2 separate regions of the Homo sapiens genome follow, and region 1 is linked to region 2. Evidence: fine-mapped expression QTL. A gene starts in region 2. The other region holds a variant in brackets. All regions are shown on one strand. Distances are from middle to middle.

Region 1 (11,176 bases), 230 kb after region 2:
ACCCCAGGAACTATACACAGACTAACACCAGTGGTCTTCACTCCCATAGCCTATATCACACCACCCATGAGACATTGATGGGGTAGGAGGGCGCAGAGGGAGGAAATGTAGCATTGCAATAATCTCACGCTGCTCCAAAAACGGAGGAGAGAATGCAAGCCACACACAAAAACACACACTGTTCCTCTCTCCTTCCCACTTCCAGAATTATAAGAAGGTTTCGTGTTCTCTGAAATTGTTATATTCTGGAAATGTTTCCCAAAAATGAATTACAAACTGGTTAATCACATTAAAAGCTGCCTTCAGCCTGGCGTTTTTGATCATTGTCAAATTTATTTTCCTTCCTTTTCAAAGCCACTCTCCTACTTTGCTTTCAGCTCTAGCTACACAAAGGAGGTGAGAAAATGGAAAGGATTAACGCCACATTGAGTTTTATCCTGGAAAATAAAGATTCTCCTGGAATTTATCACTAAAAAGTCAATAAAATGCAACAAAGCAACCACTCTATAATGACATTACATTATTGCCAAATTGCCAGAGTCCTATAGAAATGGCACCCAAGTCCTAAGCAATTTTTGCAGTTTTACGCCTATAATTTCCATGCAAAAAAAAAAAATCATTTTATGCCAAACTAAGAATAGTTTATGACTACTTTCCTCCTTGTATAAAGAGTTTCTCTTTAAGACACTTTCCTTATTTAGAAAACTTAACCTATGACAAAGTATGGCACTCTATATATGCACTTTTCTATATATATATAATTTCAATTTTAAAAAACTATATATGGGATTAGAAGCCAATTCTTCAATTATAAATTGATCATAAGTAAATTTGCTAAAACAAAAAGCTTTACAATCTAAATGTTCAAGATTTGATAGACTTTCTATGTTGTAATATATTAATTTGAATTTTCAAAACTAACAAATAATGAAAGTCAGTCGTAGGTGTCATTAATAGCTCAGTTGAAATTTACGCACAAGATTAACAAGACTGAAATCAATTAAAAGAAATTATTTGAAACTGTATTTGTGTGTGTGCGTGATGTGTGTGTAACTATATATGGTCAAAATTAAAGTCCGCTAATTGTTACCTAAAAGTGACCTTAACTATTTTAGGGAACCAAACCAAAAATATTAGAAATACAATTAGGATCACACTAAAAATTTATAAACAACCTCTTCTGTAAGAAAGAAAAGTCAACAAGAACAACGAATAGCTTTCTATATCACAAAGAGAATGTCTCTATTAATTGAAAACACTCAATTTTTGAATGTTTCAATGAATTAATTCAAATTTTGAACAAGTTTAGGGCAATATATATCAACTTAAATTTTAAATAACTCCACAGGTAATTTTAAATAACTCCACAGGTAATTTTAAATATACAGCTCTGGCTAACTCAATACATCTGAAGTCACTTGAATTTATCATAAGCCCAGGAGACTAACAAATGAATATAAGCAGTACAAAAGGGAATTCAACTTAATTCAAATACCATCTGTTCTGTTCTGCTTCTGTAACACAGATGAGCTCATGTTTGATTGGTAAGTAGCAGTGACATCTTATAGCATGGAAGTCACACTGATTCATTTGAGAGTTTCCTAAGCAAAAAAGTGGAGGGAGTGAAATGAAAATCTTAGGCAAGAAAAGGAAAAAAAAAAAAACTGTCACCTAACTTGGCCTTAGCAAGAAGCTGTATTTTAAGAACAAAGCAACCACCCTATAATGACATTAAATCATTGCCAAATTGTCAGAGCCCTTTAGAAATGGCACCCAAGTCCCAAGCAGTTTTGCAGTTTCATGACTAAAAGTTTCATGCAAAAAATTATTTTATGCCACGCTGTCAAACAGCCTACAGCTGGGTCCCACTCCCCAGACAGCGCACCCACAGCCAGCCAGAGGCTCCCTCAGTTTGGCTACCTGCACTGGCTCCATCAATGGCCACTATCACAGGAGGCCCAGGGCTCAGAGTTCCACTTCTGTGTGCACTGTCTCAACATCCACCGCCCATGTACCAATTCAAGCATTGCCAGGTTTCCATGTTGCTGTTTTTGTTTATTTTATTTTATTTTATTTTATTTTACTTTTGAGATGGAGTCTCACTCTGTCACCCAGGCTAGAGTGCAATGGCGCGATCTCGGCTCACTGCAACCTCCGCCTCCCAGGTTCAAGAGATTCTCTTGCCTCAGCCTCCCGAGTAGCTGGGATTACAGGCATGCGCCACCATGTCCGGCTAATTTTTGTATTTTTAGTAGAGACGGGGTTTCACCATGTTGGCCAGGCTGGTCTTGAACTGCTGACCTCAGGTGATCCACCCACCTCAGCCTCCTAAAGTGCTGGGATTACAGGCGTGAGCCACCGCAGGCGGACTGTTTTTTTGTATATTTTAGTATCCATTTTAGCAACATCCAGCCACACTGAGATGCCTGCTTGGGTGGTCCAGATAATCTCTTAAGGTAGCAATTATGGTTTTTGCTAGTAGTTACCAAGTTGCAATGATTTTGAGAGACCAGCTATAATCTTACTTTTCCCACAAGACACTTATTATTTTTAGTGTATTGTTGTGCAGAATGTATGGTTTTTCAGGGACATAAATTTTCCATCACAGCAGAAACACCAGTGAGTATTTATCAAGTGCCTACTTCCTATGCACAGGCAATGGACTAGGTACTCGAAGTTAAATTTAAGGACCTAAAAGAATATGTTTTCTTAAAGATCTCAACTTAGCCACGGGGGCCTGGGGGAGATGAGAATTGCGCACTTAGCATTAGTTTGCTAGGGCTGCCATAACAAAGTACCATCTGCTCAGTGGCTTAAACAACAGAAATGTATCGTCTCACAGTTCTGAAGTCTAGAAGCCTGAGATCAGTGCCTGAGCCTGGAGAAAACCCAGATGTCCAGCTGCTTTTTTGGCCCTAGGGTCACATTTGCTGAAAGGAGTCCTTTTAGAGTCTGGAGGATGAGGGCTGGAGTCCTTTAACTTCCAAGAATGGGGTCCTGGGGCATTACCTATCAGTGTGGGCTAACCTTCAAAGGGGCAGCACCTTGAGGGTACAAGTTCAGACAGCAGCCCAGCTTCACCTCAGCTGAGTGACCAAGAAAATCTCAAACCTTGGTCTACTGTGAACAACTTTCACCTACAAATGACCAGGACGCCTAAATCATGGGGTAAACCACCAACCAGGCTCCAGGTGGCCACCTGGTAAAATACAGACAGGTAACAAATAGCACTGCAAAGGTTTTGAAAACAAGTGACATTGAAACCACAACCCGCAAAAGGCTAGTTAGAACAGAACACATGCCCTGAGCTCAACTAGGTCAATGCCTGCTAAACAAATGCGTCAATATTCTCCACAGTATTTACACAAGACACAGAGTCTCAGAACATAATAACCAAAATGTCAAGGATAAAATCCAAAATTACTCAGCATATAAAGAACCAGCGAAATTGCAACTCACATGGGAGGAAAAGATATGCCATGCAAACACTAATCATAAGAAAGCCTGAATGGCTATATTAATATTCAACTTCAGAGAAAGAAAAGTGTGGGAGATAAAGAAAGACAGTACATAATAATAAAAGGGTCAATTCACCAAGAAGATATAACAATCCTATATGTGTTTGTACCTAACAATAGAGCATCAAAATACATAAAGCAAAAACTGACAGAATTGAAAGAGGCAAATCTAAAATTACAGCTGGAGACGTAAAAACTCTAATCAGCAATTGACAGAGCTAGTAGACAGAGTCAGCAAGGATATATATAGAAGAACTGAACACCATTAACTAACGGGATCAAACTGACATTTATAGAATACTCCATTCAACCACAACAGTGTACATATTCTTTTCAAGTACAAAATGGAACATTTATAATAGAAATCGTAGCAAACTGAAAGGGACTAGAGTCATACGATGTATGTTCCTGACCATAATGGAATTAAACTAGAAAGCAATGTGAAAAAATAACAGGAAAATCTTCAAACACTTGGATAGTAGACATCACACTTCTAAATAATCCATGGGTGACAGGGAAGGTCTCAAAGGAAATTAGAGAATATTTTGAACTGAAAGAAAAAAAAAAAAGTTTGTGAGATTCAGCTAAACTTAGAATGAAATTTATAAGATTAAATGTTTTTATTAGAAAAGAAAAAAGTTGCAAATCAGGCATCTAAGCTTCTACCTTAAGAAATTTTAAAAGGAAAGCAGAATGAACCATTGCAATCATAAACTCTAACTTGAGCTTCACTGAGTACCAAAAAGAGGGGAGAGAGAGGGAATGAGGCAAAAACAACAGTGAAAGAGGTCACGGCTCCGAATTTTCAACAGTGATTGCAGTGGCTTGAATGTGCACCCCAAGGAGTAAATGTTGGAAACTTCATCTTCAATGCAACTGTGCTGGGAGGTGGACCTCATGGGAGATATTTAGGTCATGAAGGCTCTACTCGCATGAATGGATTGATGACATTAAAAAAGGGCTCGAGGCTGTGAGTTCAATCTCTTGCTCTCTCTCTCACACATGTTCTCTTGCCCTTCCATCTTTCACTATGGAATGACGCCACAAGAAGGCCCTTGCCAGATGCTAGCACCCTGATATTGGACTACCCAGCCTCGAGAACTGTAAGAAATAAACTTCTTTTATTTATAAGTTACCCAGCCTGTGGTATTGTGTTATAGCAACACAAAACAAAGACAGTAATGAATGGCTTCGAAGACAGTAATGCACTTCAAAAAGCCCAAACAGGATAAATGAAAAGAAATACACACCTGGTTACTTCACAGTGAAACTGCAGAAAGTGAAATACAAAGATAAAAATATTGAATGCAGCCACAGAAAAAGGAAAGATTACTTTCCAAGTACGAGTGACCAACTTCTGAAATGCCACAGTGAAGATTTGAAGACAGAAATATCTTCAAGAAAATAACTGCTAACCTAGAATTCTCTACCCAGCAAAAATAGCTTTTAAGAATCAAGAGAAAAATGAAG[ATCTTTT/A]TCAACAGACAAAACCCAAGTTAGCCACCAGCAAAATTTTCACTGTCAACATCAAGAACTGCTTTTATTGAAAACACATAAAACGGAGAAAAAAATCCCAATTAGTAAATTATTATAAAGTAATTCTACAATAAAGCTAAATTTGCTATAAGAATAAACAAAATCATCTACACCCTTCTCCTTATTTCAGGAGTTAAATCTGATCCTCACATTTTAAATCTAACAGATAATTACCTAATTTTCTGGTAAGGTAAAGAAACTGAGATGGAAGCAGGGGAGACGATAAGATTTTAACCCCAAAATGAGCATTTTCCTATGGGCATTACAAAAGGTAACTGAGTTAGAAGGACCTCTGTTTATGAACATGTTAACTGGCTGGGAGGGAAAAAAAATGACTCTAATCAAAGAGAGAGAAGTATGCATATAATAACAAAAGACAGAATGGTCTCACAGTGTAAAGAGAACTTTTTTCAATTTGACAAGATCATGCCTATGATATCGAACAGTGCATTTTCTCATTTTCATCACTAATTGACTCATATTTCTTCCCCATTGCAACAAACCTTAGCTCCGTATTCACAAGCCCTCTGCTTGGAGCTTCATTGACAAAGAACAGCAGCATACAAAATAGCACCACAGTGCACTGAGAAATGTCACCAAACACTAAGCTATGGGGCAACTAAAACTGGACAGATTTATATTTGTTCTATGTCTGGTCAAGGGAAACTGCAGAATTTAGCTGAATAATACACTATTTCCATTCAGACACATGTTAGTGACTTTCGGCCCTCTGATCATCTTCCCTCCTCATTAAATTATAAGATCCTTTAAGGAGGTTACTCTGCATCATTCACTGAAAACAACATTTAATAAGCGCTTTGTGCCAGGCCCTGGAATGGAAATGATTGAGATCCCTCCTTTCATCTTTGGCAGCAGCAAAGACAAGGAAATAAATAATGTGAATAGCGTTATGAAGACACTGTGATGGGAAGACAAGAAGGAGTAACTAGGGAGTAGATCATTCTATAGAAAGAACATGTGTAAAGACATGTTTGAGAGGCAGAATGCATTCAGGGAAATGTGTTTCTATGGAAGGTTTGGTTCAGGAACAAGAGGAGACTAGAGCCCGATGAGAAAAGGTCTTCTATGCAATGTTAAGGAATTTGGACTTTGCCCTGGAGGCAATGAGGAGCCAAACACTACTACTTTTTTTTTTTTTTTTTTTGGAAAGCTATAAACTCTGGCACGGGAGTAGAAAATGAGAAGGAATGGAGAGAGGCAGGAGGCAGGAAGTTGACCTCTTTGGTGGCTGTTTCAATAGTCGAGGGAGGTTTTACATTGCTTTGCTGTCACTCCACAGTATCTAACACAGGGTCTAACACATAAAAGAGAACAGTAACACTGAACTGAATTGATTCTAAGAAGAAAATACCTAATTTCTTACAGAGTGGTTTATCTGCTTTCTAAGGTCCGTGCAGTAATTCCTTTCCCAGGATAGGGGGGGAAATGCCATTATCATGTACACGCTGGCAAGACCACTGCTGTGGTTTGGTCTGTCCCCACCAAAACTCATGTTAAAATTTGATCCCCACTGTGGCAGCGGTGGGAGGTGGGGCCTATGGGCCTACTGGGAGGTGTCTGGGTCATGGGGGTGGAGCTCTCATGAATAGATTAATGCCTTCCCACGGGAGTGAGTTCTCACTCTCACGGAATGGATTCATTCCCAAGAGGGTGGGTTGTTCAGAAGAGTCTGGCTTCCTTGGTTTCTCTCTCTGGCCATGTGGTTTCTTTGCACACATCATTTCCACTTCTGTTTTCCAACATGAGTTAAAACAGTCTAAGGCCCTCCCCAGATGCAAATGCTCAGTCCTGAACTTTCCAACCCCCAGAATCATGTGCTAAATAAACCTCTTTACTTTATAAACTATCCAGTTTCAGGTATTCTGATACAGCAACTCTAAACGAACTAGGACAGCCACCAGTGCCTTTCACAGCATTCCAAATATACAGTCAAATCCCCGGAGAATCCTGGTTCTCACAGGTTTTTTGTGTGTGTTCATCTTATCACATTTACAGTAATCTTAAAACCTTTAGTGGGAAAAGTTAAAAAAAAAAAAAAAAAAGCTGCAAAGCAAAATGCTCTGACCCCAGAATGCCAAATATATACTTTTAACAATATAAACTAAGCAAAAGGAAAGATGTTGTACTCTACCTAGTAAGAAAGTAAGAACGCATCCAGCAGTTAATTTCAATTTAAAAACGCCATTCCGGCCCTGCCCAATGGCTCACGCCTGTAATCCTAGTACTTCGGGAGGCCGAGGAGTGTGGATTTCCTGAGGTCAGGAATTAGAGGCCAGCCTGGCCAACATGGTGAAACCCCGTCTCTATTAAAAATACAAAAATTAGCTGGGCATGGTGGCGGGCGCCTATAATCCCAGCTACTCAGAAGGCTGAGGCAGGAGAATCGCTTTAACCTGGGGACAGAGGTTGCAGCGAGCCAAGATCGCACCACTTCATTCCAGCCTGGGCAACAGAGCAAAACTCCATCTTGAAAAATAAACAAAAATAAAAAAATAAAAATAAAAATGCAGTTCAGAATTCTCAGCCCAACATCACAGAAATATATATCCAGCTTTCCCAGGAGACTAAAGCAGATTTATTTGAATAAATTTTGTATCTTTGTTAAAACAACAGTTATCAACTCATAGTCATAGCTTATAAGTTAATACTGGAAACATTCTATCAACAGTCAAACTGAGACTTAAAACAGAAGACTAGAGAAGGAAGATTTCATGATGTGAAGTGAAGAGATGAAATTTAGACATATACATCTTACAAAGCAACAAGAATATTCAGAGTCAAAGAGAGATACAATAATTCTTACCAAATTTTAAATCCAAAGCCGAGAAAGAGTGTTTCAGAGATAAGCAAGGTGGAGAAAAGAACACTATACATAATGAAGTGATTTTGAGACTTTTCTTAAATGGAGGAAAAGGTGACCAATTTTTAAATGCATTCGATAAGTTTTCCAGCCATCTCTTCATTTTAGAACTGAATCCAGTTTTCTGGGAGGCTACCAATGAACTTGGTTCTTGATAAGGAACAAAACTATTATTAAGTTCTGAAGAAATATGGGGGGGTAGGGAATAGTGAAAGGAATGTCCCATCCCCGGCCTGGGCAACATGGCAAAATCCCATCTCTACAAAAAAATACAGAAATTAGCTGGGTGCAGTGGTGTGTGCCTGTAGTCCCAGCTACTCAGGAGGCTGAGGTGGGAGGATCACTTGAGCCCAGGAGCTCGAGGCTGTAGTGAGCTATGATTGCACCACTGCACTCCAGCATGGGTGATAGAACAAGACCCTGTCTCAAAAAGAACAACAACAAAAAAGAATGTTCCATTCATGTAACATGCAGTTTCTACTAATTTTAAAACTGAGCTACAGTGTTCCTGGCTCATATTTGGAGCAGAGATTTAAACAGCAAAAAAATACCCTACCAGAGACATGCACAATTAAATTTCAAACTGAAACACAATAAATAGATTTAATTTATTGCCCAATGTGTAATCACTTTTCGTAAATGGAGGTGGGAATTCCACATCTAAAGGTCTAGACATTTTAATCTCACCCTCAAGGGAAAAAAATGATACACACGGCCGGGCATGGTGGCTCACGCCTGTAATCCCAGCACTTCGGGAGGCCGAGGCAGGCGGATCGCCTGAGGTCAGGAGTTGGAAACCAGCCTGGCCACTGTAGTGAAACCCCATCTCTACTGAAAACACAAAAATTAGCCAGGCGTGGTGGTGTGCGCCTGTAAGCTATTGGGAAGGCTGAGGCAGGAGAATCATTTGAACAGGGAGGCGGAGGTTGCAGTGAGCCGAGATTGTGCCATTGCACTCCAGCCTGGGCGACAGAGCACGACCACGTCTCAAAAAAAAAAAAAAAGATACATACAAAACAAGGGAATAATTTCATTTTTCTTATTTTGCATTTCCATGTCTAGGCACATTCAAAGACTTTTAATGTGATATTATGATGCACATTTGAAATTTTCAAAGACAAGGCATTGTATATTGGCTACCCTTTTATATGGGCATACTAGGATTACACATTTTGATTCCACTTAAATTTGTACTATATATAAAAGATAGGTAAAATAGGATCCTATACATAGTAACATGGAATTTTTATATTTTTATACATTCTAAAATCTCCCTAATATTATGATGAAATTATTTCAATATTTTGTTGTTCTTTGTACATATTAATATCCTACGCATCTGTCTCTAAAGAGTTTTGAAAGAGAATTTATCCACTCAATAGTTAAAATGGTTAAAATGGCAAATTTTATAATGTGTATTTTGCCAAATTTACAAAATGAATAACTGAATATACCCAAAACCACTGATATTTACACTTTAAAGGGGCAAATTATATGGTATGTGAATTCTATCTTAATATAGCTGTTTAAAAAAACTTACAGAGCCCTCTTCCAGAAAAGCTGCCTTGTCAACACTTTGATTACTCATTATGTGAAAATACAAATATTGTTGATTCTGTGTCAAACGGATGATTCAGAAGAGATGGACACTGACTGTGAAGAAATGTTAAGAATTCCTTAATCTATTTTTCTTATACTTTTAAATTATGTATATACAAGAATAACACATGCAAAAAATCTATACTTAAATAAGTGGCTCTTTCAATGTTATAAGTAAAGGTTATAGATAATTAGAAAGCATCAACATTATTTGATTCATAGCATTTTTTCTCTTTTGGTGGTGCACGTAATTGTAAATCTTACAACTGCATTTTTTTGGTTTTTTTGTTTTTTTGTTTTTGAGACACAGTCTCACTCCGTCACCCAGGCTGGAGTACAGCAGTGCGTCTCCAGGGCTCAAGCGATCCTCCCACCTCAGCCTCCCAAGTAGCTGAGACCACAGGTGCGTGCCATCATGCCTGGCTTATTTTTCTATCTTTAGGGGAAATAGGTTCTCACTATGTTGCCCAGGCTGGTTTCAAACTCCTGAGTCAAGCGATCCACCCACCTCAGCCTCCCAAAGTACTGAGATTACACGTATGAGCCACCACACCCGGTTACAATCAATTTTTTTTCTTTTTTGGTGGCACATGTAATTGTACATCTTACAATCAATGTGGTTTCAGATTCTGAGTTGAGACTTAGCAAAAAGGAGGAAGAAATAGAGACATGGAGCTTCTAATCTCTAAACACCTATGTATACACCACTCCCAGCACTGTATACATACGCCTGTGTTCATACACATGTGGCCCTTTTCCTAAGCCTCCTGTGAAATCAAACACATTTTCATTCCAATAAAGCAATTTCTGGAAAGTTATAAAAGACACCGGGGAAAGGTATTTAAAATGAATACCATTTTGCTAATTAACTGTGTTTACTATTACAATTACTAAAATAAATGTACTCCCCTTATGTGACGGTATGACAAAGCAGGAATCTGATGGACATATTATGTCAATTACTCATTTGAATCCATGACTCAGAGTATTTTAAATATACATATGGAAACCAGAGTCTTTTCATAACCAGACTCTACAAACAAGAAATGTGTGCCAAGACGTGACAAACACAATCTTAAAAAGCTTCACAGATTTAAATCTTCCATTTAAAGCACAACTTATTTTATCAATGCTTTTATGTAATCCCCAAAATACAGCAACACTGAGTTTAAAATTCCAAAGATGTTTTCTGGTTTCAATGATGGAAATTGCTTGTCCTGTCTACAATAAACACACACAGTAGGACACAAAACTTCAAAGAGAAAATTCATATATTGATGGAGACAATTTTTGAAATTTTCTTGTCATATATGAAAAGCAATTTGTGATGGATATCTCCGGGCCACAACTTTTTTTTTTTTTTTTTTGAGATGGAGTCTCAGTCTGTCACCCAGGCTAGAATGCAGTGGTGCGATCTCAGCTCACTGCAGCCTCTGCCTCCCGGGTTCAAGCAATTCTCGTGCCTCAGCCTCCCAAGGGATTACATGCGTGCGTCACCACGCCTGGGTAATTTTTGTATTTTTAGTAGAGATGGGGTTTCACAATGTTGGCCAGGCTGGTCTAGAACTCCTGACCTCAAGTGATCCGCCTGCCTCGGCCTCCCAAAGTGCTGCGATTATGGGCATGAACCATGGTGCCCCGC
Region 2 (11,176 bases):
GGGTCATTTCCATCATCCCTGTGACCAGCACAACGCTTGGCACATAGCAGGTGTTTGGTACTGCTGTTGCCAAGGGGCACCCGGAGAGCAGGTGCAGCAGAGGGACCAGCCCACCTGGCCCTGCCCCAGGAGACTGTTCACCCAGGTGGCACTGACTGAGTCCCTTCCATGGACCCCATCCCTACCGTGTTGGGAGGATCCAGAAATACAGAACAAGCCCCTCCCTGGAGGGACCTCACAGGAGACCTGCTGGGCTTTCAACAAGAAAGGCTGGCCAGGCGTGGTGGCTCACACCTGTAATTCCAGCACTTTGGGAGGCCGAGGCGGGCGGATCACCTGAGGTCAGGAGTTCCAGATCAGCCTGACCAACATGGAGAAACCCCCGTTTCTACTAAAAATACAAAATTAACCAGGTGTGGTGGCATGCGCCTGTAATCACAGCTACTCGGGAGACTGAGGCAGGAGAATTGCTTGAACCCGGAAGGCAGAGGTTGCAGTGAGCCAAGATTGCGCCACTGCACTCCAGCCTGGACGACAAGAGCGAAACTGTCTCAAAAAAATTTAAAAAAAGAAAGGCCAACTATTTGACCTTGTGGTTTTCAACTATTTCAACTATTTTACCTTGTTTTTCTTTCACAAATTTTCATTAGATCCCTTACCCTCTCTCTGCCACTCTATTATGAGGGGGGAGGGGGATGAAAACTGTTGGATAATATTCAACCCCGTTAGCTGCCCACGTCCCACCTGTCCCTCAACAAGTCTCCAATCTGGGTCCTTTTATGGTTCCCAAAATGTGGCAGAAAGGTGGGTGCTGGCCTTCTGGCGATGGGGATGTGGGGACAGTAGATGCACGACCGAGTGGGCACAAGGTCCCCCCACAAGTCCCCCCAGGAACCTGTCAGCTCCAGGTCCATTTTGGGAAATCACTCCTGGAAGAAATAGCAGCCTGGCCTCCTGGGCTCTAAAATTGCATCTCGGTCAGGCACGGTGGCTCATGCCTGTAATTCCAGCACTTTGGGAGGCCGAGGTGGGTGGATCACCTGAGGTCAGGCGTTTGAGACCGGCCTGGCCAACATGGCGAAACCCCGTCTCTACTAACAATACAAAATTAGCCGGGTGTGGTGGCGAACGCCTGTAATCTCAGCTACTCGGGAGGCTGAGGCCGGAGAATTACTTGAACCTGGGAGATGGTGGTTGCCGTGAGCCGAGATTGCGCCACTGCACTCCAGCCTGGGCAAAAAGAGCGAAATTCCATCTCAAATAAATAAATACATAAATCAAATAAAATCATATCTCCCCAAAGCCAGCACCAACAGGGTGGAAAACCCCTCTAGATGAGGCAACATTTTAAAGTAAAAATGCTGCCCATCCCGTGTTCCCTGGGGGCTGGGGGTTGTGGCACGATGACTGACCCTGATACATCCCCATGTCCCTGCCTCGTCCTCCCCTCCCTTAGCAGGTACATGGTCCCCAGACATCTGACGGATGCGTGGGCCACCCTCGTGTGGTTTCCAGGGCAGGGCCAGCCCGGGGAGTAGAAGCAGGAATCGAGGGGGCAAGGGAAGCCCCTTCTAGTGCCCAGGCAACTCTGAGATTATTTTTTTCAGACGCATCTCATTCACTTCAAAGCAACATCACCTGTCCCTGTGGGGGACTCCAGCTCCGACCTTTCCTCAGGCCCACCTCACACGTTCGCTGCTTTGGCCCACATCACGTATTTCCTTTTTTTTCAGAGCCATTTCTTAAATTATAAAGGCATTTGAGGCCGGGCCCAGTCAGCTCACACCTGTAATCACAGCGCTTTGAAGCCAGAGGGTCACTTGAGCCCAGGAGTTTTAGATCAGCCTGAACAACACAGCGACACCCATTCTCTACAAAAAAAAAAATTTAAAAATTAGCCAGGCATGGTAGCGTGCACCTGTTGCCCCAGCTACTTGGAAGGCTGAGGCAGGAGGATCTCTTGAGCCCAGGGGTTTGAAGTTGCAGTGAGCTATGATGGCGCCCCTGCCCTTCAGCCTGGGCAACAAAGTGAGAGACCCTTTCTACAAAAATAAATAAATAAAAATCAAGTCATTTGAGTCAAGATGCCGAGAGCTGGTCACTTCCAAGGGAATGCTGGCATTGAAAAGGGGACCTGCAGTGTCTTAACCCCAAAGAGGGAAATCCAGAAGCTGTGATGGGAGCTTTTCCACGCAAACAGAGTGGGTATATGATATTGAGGGACCTGAAGCCCGCATGGGTCACTGCTGCTGCCTGAGGCCACCCAACCAGTCTGTACTACCCTGGTTGGGCTTTGCTCTCCCTCCCCACTTTGGCTGGGAGGCAGCATTTGGCCAGGCTGTGGACAGAGAGGTGCATGGATGAGAGACCACCTCCTCCCTTATCCCCCTAACTCCTGGCACCCCTCTCCTCCCCATCCCCTCCCTGCCACCCCAGCTGAGAAGCGTGGGCCTGAGCGAGGCTGGCAGGTAGCAGGGACATTCGGCTGCATGCTAATGGCCAAACAGCATCTGCAGTGAGACAGACGCATGTTATCACGCAGATCGGTTGCCAGGGGAATGGATCAGGAGGGCAGCCAGCTGGGACTGGGAGGGGGGATGGGGGGCAGGGAGGGGCTGTGTCTGCTGCAGACATTGCTGCAGACACTGGCCCAGCTCATGGGAGCCCGCCGACTCCCCCACCACCACCTGCCAGCTCCAAGGACACTTTTTCTCAGTCTGTTTTTTCAAAATCAGGTGTGTCACAGCCCCTGGGTGATGCTGCCCCTGTTCCTCAGGGGTCTCAGGGATGGCCAGGACATCCAGGGTGGAAATGGACCAGGAAGCCTTTGCCAAATGTGGCTGAAGGAACCAATCACAGGGCCTGGTGCTCTACCCACCAAATTCATCTTTCCAGGCCGGCGTGGTGGCTCACACCTGTAATCCCAGCACTTTGGGAGGCTGAGACAGGTGGATCACCTGAGGCCAGAGGTTCGAGACCAGCCTGGCCAACATGGCGAAGCCCTATCTCTACTAAAAATACAAAAATTAGCCAGGTGTGGTGGCAGGCGCCTGTAATCCCAGCTACTTGGGAGGCTGAGGCAGGAGAATTTCTTGAACCCAGAAGGTGGAGGTTGCAGTGAGCCAAGATTGTGCCACTGCACTCCAGCCTGGGTGACAGAGCAAGACTGCATCTCAAACAAACAAATTCATCTTTCCATGTTTGGGAGTCCATGTGACATGGAGTTGGGGTATGGAGCAGCCAAGGCAGAGGTTTAGGGGACTCCAAGGGCCCCCCAAGTCACCCAGAGCTCAAGGGGCAAAAGCAAAAAGAGATGGGGCACTCACCCCAAAGCTTGGCCCATGGAAGAAACACCTACCTTTTCCAGCAACACAGCATGTGCAGCCCTGAACATTCTAGAAAATGGCTACACCAGTCCTTTCACACAGAATATGCAGACTACCCAAAACACTTCCAAAGAGTACCTCTAAAGTCTGGATAACACAACCCAGAATTAATTAATAGTCCAGTACATGGACTTCTGACTTACAAATCCCTGATTCATGGACTCCAGAAAGGGGAAGGGTAGAAAAGTCTCCCCGACGGGTGAGGGAGAAGATGTTTCCCAACTCCACTCTTAGCCACTGTGATTTTGACCACATCAAGGGTGCAATTGGCTAGAATGGGAACCACACATGATTTCCAAATAATTAATTCACTTTTGTTATTATTTTCTTTTTCTTTTGCAATTTAGGACACATTGAAAATCTCTGACACAAATCAACCTGATGGACAAGAGACCCCTTTCCTGTATTTCCAGGAGGAAATAGGTAATCTTGTCCAAGTGCAATTCCCATAAAATTCGTCTAATTCATCCCTGAGTTGCAGGTTTTCTTTGACCTCATGGTTTTTCTTTCACAAATTTTCATTAGATCCCTTGCTCTCTCTCTCCACCGCTCTTTTATGAGGGGGGAGGGGGTGAAAAGTGGTGGATAGTATTCAACCTTCTTAGCTGCCCACGTCCCATCTGTCCCTCGAATAGTCTTAAATCTGGGTCCTTTTATGGTTCCCAAAATGTGGCAGAGAGGTGGGTGCTGGCTTTCTGGCGGTGGGGAAGTGGGGGCAGTAGACACACAACCCTGCTTCCCCCACTCCCCCACCCACACACACACCCCAGGAACCTGTCAGCTCCGGGTCCATTTTGGAAATCACCACCAGAGAGGAAATGGCAGCCTGGCCTCCTGGGCTCTAAATTCGCATCTCCCCAAAGCCAGCACCAACACGGTGGGAAACCCCTCTAGATGAGGCGACATTTTAAGGCAAAAACGTTGCCCATCCCGTGCTCCCTGGGGGACTGGGGAATTGTGGCGCGATGACGGACCCTGGCGCATCCCCGCCTCCCTGCCTCGTCCTCCCCTCCCTTAGCGGGTGCATGGTCCCCAGGCATCGACGGATGCGCCGGCCACCCCCGCGCGGTTTCCAGGGCAGGGCCAGCCTGGGGGGGTGGAAGCAGGAATCCAGGGGGTGCGGGGAGCCCCCTCCAGTGCCCAGGCGACTTTGGGGAACAAGGATGAAAGGAGAGGGGAAAGGGCGCTGCAGTGGCCTCAGCCGAGGAGGGAGATGCGCGCAGGGCGCACGGTGCCACCTCCGCAATCCCTGCTCCCGGGCCCACTCGCCCGCTGAGACGGTTCCAGGCCCCGGGCGGGCTGCGGCTGCAGGGAGGCCGGATTGCCCAGCGCCTTACCTGCGGCCACCCCTGCCGGGGCCCAGGGCAGGAGGCAGGCAAGCCAGAGGATGCGGCCGAGGCGCGACCACACTGCCTGGGCCATTGCGGGGCCCGGAGCGGGAGAAGCGTGGGGCGGACGCGGAGGGAATGCAGCTGGAGCTCGAGAACTGCGGCGGTCGCTCCTCCGGGCGCGCAGCGCGGGCGGTGCGGGGAGGTGCGGGCGCCGTGCTCGCTCGTCCTCGCCGGGGGACGCTCTGTCGCTGCGCGCCGCCGCCGCCGCCCACAGCCCGCTGCGCGACCCCGGCCCACGTCAGCCGCGCCGCGCGCCCTCCTCCTCCTCCCGCCGCCCCTTGCTCCCGCGTCCCTCTCCACGGCCGCGTCCTCCCTCTCCGGGTCTCTTCCCACGGCCGCGCCCCCTGCCCTCCTGGAGTCCACGATCGCCCCTCCCAGCTTGCTTCCCCTCTAGGGGTTCCAGAGCTCCCTTCCTGCGCCCTGGCTCCTCCCCGCATCCCTCCCCACCCCAAATCCACCCCCGGCCGCATCCTTCCCCTCCACTACCCGAAACCACGCCCCCCGCACCCGCATTTTTCCCTTCCCCCGAGCCCCTCCCCGCCCTGGATCCGATGCCGCCGGCTCTGACTCAGCGTCCCCAGGGGCGTGCGCTGCGCTGCAAGCCGCCTGCAGGTCCCTTGGGGCTCTCCTCCAGGTGCCTTCTCTCTGCACGCTCGTGGCTCCGAGATGCTACTCCTCATTCAAGAACTGTTGAGAGCTTAAGGTGCGCCAGGCGTTGGGCGAAAGGCCTCGAAATTCCTCTTGCTGCTGCTGCTGCTGCTGCTTCCTCTTTTCTTTTTTTTTTTTTTTTAATCTTGAGACAGAGTCTCGCTCTGTCCCAGAATGGCGCGATCTCGGCTCACTGCAACCTCCGCCTCCCGGGTTCAAGCGATTCTCCTGCCTCAGCCTCCCTAGTAAGATGGGATTACAGGTGCCCGCCACCAGGCCTGGCTAATTTTTGTATTTTTAGTAGAGACGGGGTTTCACCATGTTGGCCAGGTTGGTCTCAAACTCCTGGCCTCAAGTGATCCTCTCGCCTCAGCCTCCCAAAATGTTGGGATTACAGGTGTAAGCCACTGTGCCCAGCCTCTTGCCCCTTCTTGATAGAGGGGCCTGAGCACCCGGCCCCTGCCGTGGGCTTGATGTCATCCCCCGGTTTACCCTCTCACAGCTGCTGTTAAGATGGGGCTCCTGCTCGTATCTGGGCCCAGGGCAACTTCTTTGTCACTGAGGGCCTTGTGGGAGTCAGGCTACTGCGGTGAGGGGTGACCAGCCTACACAGTTACTGCCATTTGCCTTAGAGGAGCAGGGCTGGGCTCTCCTAGAAGCTGGAGGGGCCTGGCTGGCCTTAAACGCTGGAAGCCCGGTGGGTTCTGGTCCCAGCTATGCTTCCGCTTTGCTACGGCTACCTGGGCGAGGGATCCTCCCACACAGTGAGGGCCTTTGACCTCCTCTCTGGCCCGTGGAGCACGGATGGACCATCACTGCACCACCCAGTGCATTGACATCAAGGCGTCTAAAGCAGGGGTCTCCAAGCCCCTGGCCGCCAGTACCAGTCCATAGCCTGTTAGGAACTGGCTGCACAGCAGGAGGTGAGCAGGGCCTGTGAGCCACGCTGAGCTCCACCTCCTGGCAGATCAGCAGGGCATTAGATTCTCATAGGAGCGCAAACCCTACTGTGAACTGCTCACGTGAGGGATCAAGGTTGCGTGCTCCTTATGAGAATCTAATGCCTGATGTTCTGTCACTGTTTCCCATCATCCCCAGATGGGACCATCTAGTTGCAAGAAAGCAAGCTCAGGGCTCCCACTGATTCTACATGATGGTGAGTATGTAATCATAATAGAAATAAAGTATACAATAAAAGTAATGCGCTTGAATCATCCCGAAACCATCCCTCCAACCCCTCATTCGTGGAAACATTGTCTTTGGTGCCAAAAAGGTTGGGGACTACTGGTCTAAAGGGCCCCTGGCTCTGGGACAGCTGTGAGCTTCCCTAAGAATGGGCCCCACTGGCCCCACTGCTATGTTCAGGGAATGGAGGGAGAATAGATTTGAGTGAGCCCCTATGAAAAGTTAAAAGGGCTAGACAGGGCAGGGCATGGTGACTCACACCTGTAATCCCAGCGCTTTGGGAGGCCGAGGCGGGTGGATCACGAGGTCAGGAGTTCGAGACCAGCCTAACCAAGATGGTGAAACCCCGTCTCTACTAAAAATACACAAATTAGCCAGACTCGGTGGCAGGCGCCTGTAATCCCAGCTACTTGGGAGCCTGAGGAAGGAGAATTGCTTGAACCTGGAGGCGGAGTTTGCAGTGAGCCAAGATTGCACCACTGTACTCCAGCCTGGGCAACAGAGCAAGACTCCGTCTCAAAAAAAAAAAAAAGTTGGGGGGGTCGGTTGCGGTGGCTCACGCCTGTAATCCCAGCACTTTGGGAGGCCAAAGCGGGCAGATCATGAGGTCAGGAGATCGAGACCATCCTGGCTAACACAGTGAAACCCCGTCTCTACTTAAAAAAAATACAAAAAATTAGCCGGGCGTGTAGTCCCAGCTACTCGGGAGGCTGAGGCAGGAGTATGGTGTGAACCCAGGAGGCAGAGCTTGAGTGAGCTGAGATTGCACCACTGCACTCCAGCCTGGGAAACAGAATGAGACTCCATCTCAAAAAAAAAAAAAAAAAAGTGCTAGACGGATGTCACCCCCTAGTGGCATCAACTGTCACGGTGGTGATAAATACCAGGCCTAGGAACAAGGGGACTTTGGGTTCTCCCTGAGAGTTACAGGACCTTGGAGAAGTCACTTTCCTCCCTGCTAATGTTTTAAAAATTATTTTTTACAGAGATGGGATCTTGCTAGGTTGCTCAGACTGGTCTCAAACTCCTGAGCTCAAGCGATCCTCCTGCTTCAGCCTCCAGAGTAGCTGGGACTACAGGCATGAGCCACCATGTCAGTCCCCCTTTTTCTTTAAAATGGGCATAATAATAGTCCCAACACCATGAGACTATTATAAGGATAAAAGGAATTAACACGTAGAACACAGCTTAGGACATAGTAAAGGGTTCAATCAGTGTTGGGTGTCAAATGGGAATTGCTGAAGGACTTGGGAGGAATTGGCTTGTTCAGCAGGACTTTGAAGCACTTGAGAAGAAAACAGTCAAGCTTGCAGAGTTGCAAATCTTTAAGACGGTTTAACATAATTGGAAGGCCAGGTCGTTCCTGCTTTTTAAAAATGTATCAAATAGCATAAGATGTATTGTTTCTAAAATGTGTAACTTTATTTCACTGAGTAATAATTTTACAGTAGCCACAGTGTTACAGAAGCCACCTTCAAGGCCACCCTGAAATTGATGCTGATGCCACCCTTTGGCTAATTCCTTTTTTTTTTTTTTTGAGATGGAGTCTCTCTCTGTCACCCAGGCTGGAGTGCAGTGGTGCGATCTCGGCTCACTGCAAGCTCCGCCTCCTGGGTTCACGACATTCTCCTGCCTCAGCCTCCCAAGTAGCTGGGACTACAGGCGCCTGCCACCACGCCTGGCTAATTTTTTTGTATTTTTAGTAGAAACGGGGTTTCACCGTGTTAGCCAGGATGGTCTCGATCCGCTGACCTCGTGATCCGCCCGCCTCTGCCTCCCAAAGTGCTGGGATTACAGGCGTGAGCCACCGCACCCGGCCAGCCCTTTGGCTAATTCCTGTTTGCCACCCAGGATTTTCTTTCCTTTTTTTTTTTTTTTTTGACGGAGTCTTGCTCTGTCACCCAGGCTACAGCGCAGTGGTGTGATCTCGGCTCACTGCAACCTCTGGCTCCCAGGTTCAAGCAATTCTTCTGCCTCAGACTCCCAAGCAGCTGGGATTACACACACCCGCCACCACGCCTGGCTAATTTTTTGTATTTTTTTTTTTTTTTTTTTTTTTTTTTTTAGTAGAGATGGGGTTTCGCCACGTTGGCCAAGCTGGTCTCGAACGCTAGACCTCAGGTGACCCACCCGCTTTGGCCTCTCAAAGTGCTGGGATTACAGGCATAAGCCACCGCGCCCGGCCAGGATTTTCCATAGGCGTTACTCTTATCCCATCACCACCACCACCACCCTCACAGTACCCATCTCTGCTCCATCCCATAGCAGACTGGGAAGCTTCACTCTTCCAGGGAGTATCTGATAAGGGAGGGGCAGGAAATCCTCTCAGAAGGCTAGGTTTCCTTTTCATTTTTTTCTTTTCCTTTTATTTTTTGAGATGGAGTCTCAAAAATGTTGCCTAGGCTGGAGTGCAGTGGCACGATCTTGGCTCACTGCAACCTCTGCCTCCTGGATTCAAGCGACTCTCCTGCCTCAGCCTCCTGAGTAGCTGGGATTACAGGCATGCACCACCATGCCCAGCTAATTTTGGTATTTCTTAGTAGAGATGGGGTTTCACCATGTTGGCCAGGCTGGCCTCGAACTCCTGGCCTCAAGTGATCTGCCGCCTCTGCCTCCCAAAGTGCTAGGATTACAGGCGTGAGCCACTGTGCCCAGTCCATAGAGCTAGCTTTTCTTTTATTTTTTCTTTTCTTTTCTTTCAGAGAGGGGTCTCTTTATATGTTGCCCAGGTTAGTCTCAGACTCCTGACCACAAGCAATCCTCCCACCTCGGCCTCCAGAGTAGCAAGGATTACAGGTGTGCACCACCAAGTGCAGCTTGGCTTTCCTAAATTAATGTTCTTGGCTAGAAACAGAATTGGAGCCATGTATGTAATTTTAAATTTTCAAGTAGCCACAATTCAAAAAAGAAAAAGAAATAAGTGAAATCAATTTTAATGCTGTTACAAAACTCAACATATTCAAAATATCATCTCAACACATAATCAACGTAAAAATGATCAATAACCCGGGAGCAGTGGCTCACGCCTATAATCTCAACACTGTGGGAGGCCGAGGCAGAGGAGGCCAAGAGTTTGAGACCAGCCTGGCCAACACGGGGAACCCCAGTGGCAGGTGCTGTAATCCCAGCTACTCTGGAGGCTGAGGTACAGGAATCTCTTCAACCTGAGGGGCATAGGTTGCAGTGAGCCAAGATCGTGCCACTGCACTCTAGCCTTTTTGTTGTTGTTGTTGTTGTTGTTGTAAGGGTTCACCATCTCGTGTGCATTTTACGCTGAGATTTCATCTCCATTCAGATGGGCCACACTGCACATGGGGCTAGTGGCTACTGAAGTGGAAAGCACAGCACTAAGTTGCCTGGGTACAAATGCGTCTGACCATCCCAAGAGTCTTCCTGGTCATCCTCCTTTTTTTTTTTTTTTTTTTTTTTGAGACAGGTTCTCCCCCTGTTGCCCAGTGTGAAGTGCAGTGACACAATTGTGACTCACAGGTCACTGCACCCTCTAACTCTTAGGGTCAAATGATCCTCCCACCTCAGCCTCCCAAGTAGCTCAGCTAATTTTTTAGATTTTTGGTAGAGATGGGGGTCTCACTATGTTGCCCAGGCTGGTCTTGAGCTCCTAGTCTCAAGTGATCCTCCTGCCTCAGCCTCCCAAAGTACTGGGATTACAGGCATAAGCCACTGTGTTCGGCCTCAAGAGTCATTTTTTTTTTCCCACAAATTCTCCCAGTCTAGCCTATAGGGGCCACAAATACCTCTTACCGGGGTGACTTTGACCCTCCTCCCAGCATCCTCGCCTATGCCATGTGTCTGCGTGTCTGGTACTTAGCATGTAGTTTGGTGCAAAGTAGATGCTTGTGGAATGGCTGAAAGAATAAGATGAGGCCTCCCCTTGATAACGCCCCCAAAGCCTTGAACATGACTCGGTGTTGGAAACCATTTGTCGGTGCCTTCTCTGGACTGACCTTGGACTGCTTTCACAGACACCATCTCATATGATCACAAGGCAGCACAGAGGGGACATTCTCTCCCCTGGCGAGGTGAGCATCGGTCAGAACAGACACTGAGGGCAGCCTTAACAGGCAATGCCTGGGGCCAAACGTCCAGAACAGTAGCCACAGGTAAGGGTCTGGGACCTGGGGACAGATCAGATGTTGTGAACAGTCAGACCTCATTCGCCTGGCTCTGGGGGGGCGGTGGGGGAGGGACGGTGGCCTGTTTTGGTTAATTAAATTTTTCTGGGTAATGAAAAGTTCACACTTCTTTGGTGTCAATTCTTGTTGATGAAACTCTTTCTAAAGCAAGTTAGTGTTAGTTGGTCTGTTGGCCCTAGCAAGGTGGTATAATCAAATCTTTGGTCATTCGAGGGCAGCAGCCCTAGGGTCCGTATCCCTACCACACATCCTCGTTGTCCTGCATTGGAAATTAACTATGGGAGGTGGGGGGCCGCTGGGCAGGTAACAATGACTCAGAATCAGCTCCTGGGAGAAGCATTTGGGGCTAAATCCTGGAGTAGCTTGGAGGGAGCAAAATGAGTTCGGGGATATCCTTTTTTTTTTTTTTTTT

Direction of the effects. Positions count from the first base shown, and alleles are read on the strand shown. Sizes are in standard deviations (SD) of each study's normalised expression.
For the expression in tibial nerve of the gene that starts at base 4,961 in region 2, A is the high allele of the variant in region 1 and ATCTTTT is the other (moderate effect, 0.71 SD a copy in GTEx).

Evidence for each region.
Region 1: its variant is fine-mapped to the expression of TMEM130 in tibial nerve (GTEx, PIP 0.91).

Annotation. Positions count from the first base shown.
Region 1 is chr7:99,093,010-99,104,185 of GRCh38, forward strand. The region is part of intron 1 of SMURF1 (SMAD specific E3 ubiquitin protein ligase 1); the gene reads right to left. Among named protein-coding and RNA genes, the nearest start is that of SMURF1, 46 kb to the right of the region's middle. RefSeq lists enhancers at 5,363-6,217, 6,218-7,071, 9,513-10,712. The variant ATCTTTT/A (reference allele first, on the strand shown) is at 4,989.
Region 2 is chr7:98,865,054-98,876,229 of GRCh38, forward strand. It overlaps TMEM130 (transmembrane protein 130), which reads right to left and starts at 4,961. Exons shown (of 8, transcript NM_152913.3): 1 at 4,724-4,961. The coding sequence starts at 4,808. RefSeq lists enhancers at 3,859-4,445, 4,446-5,031.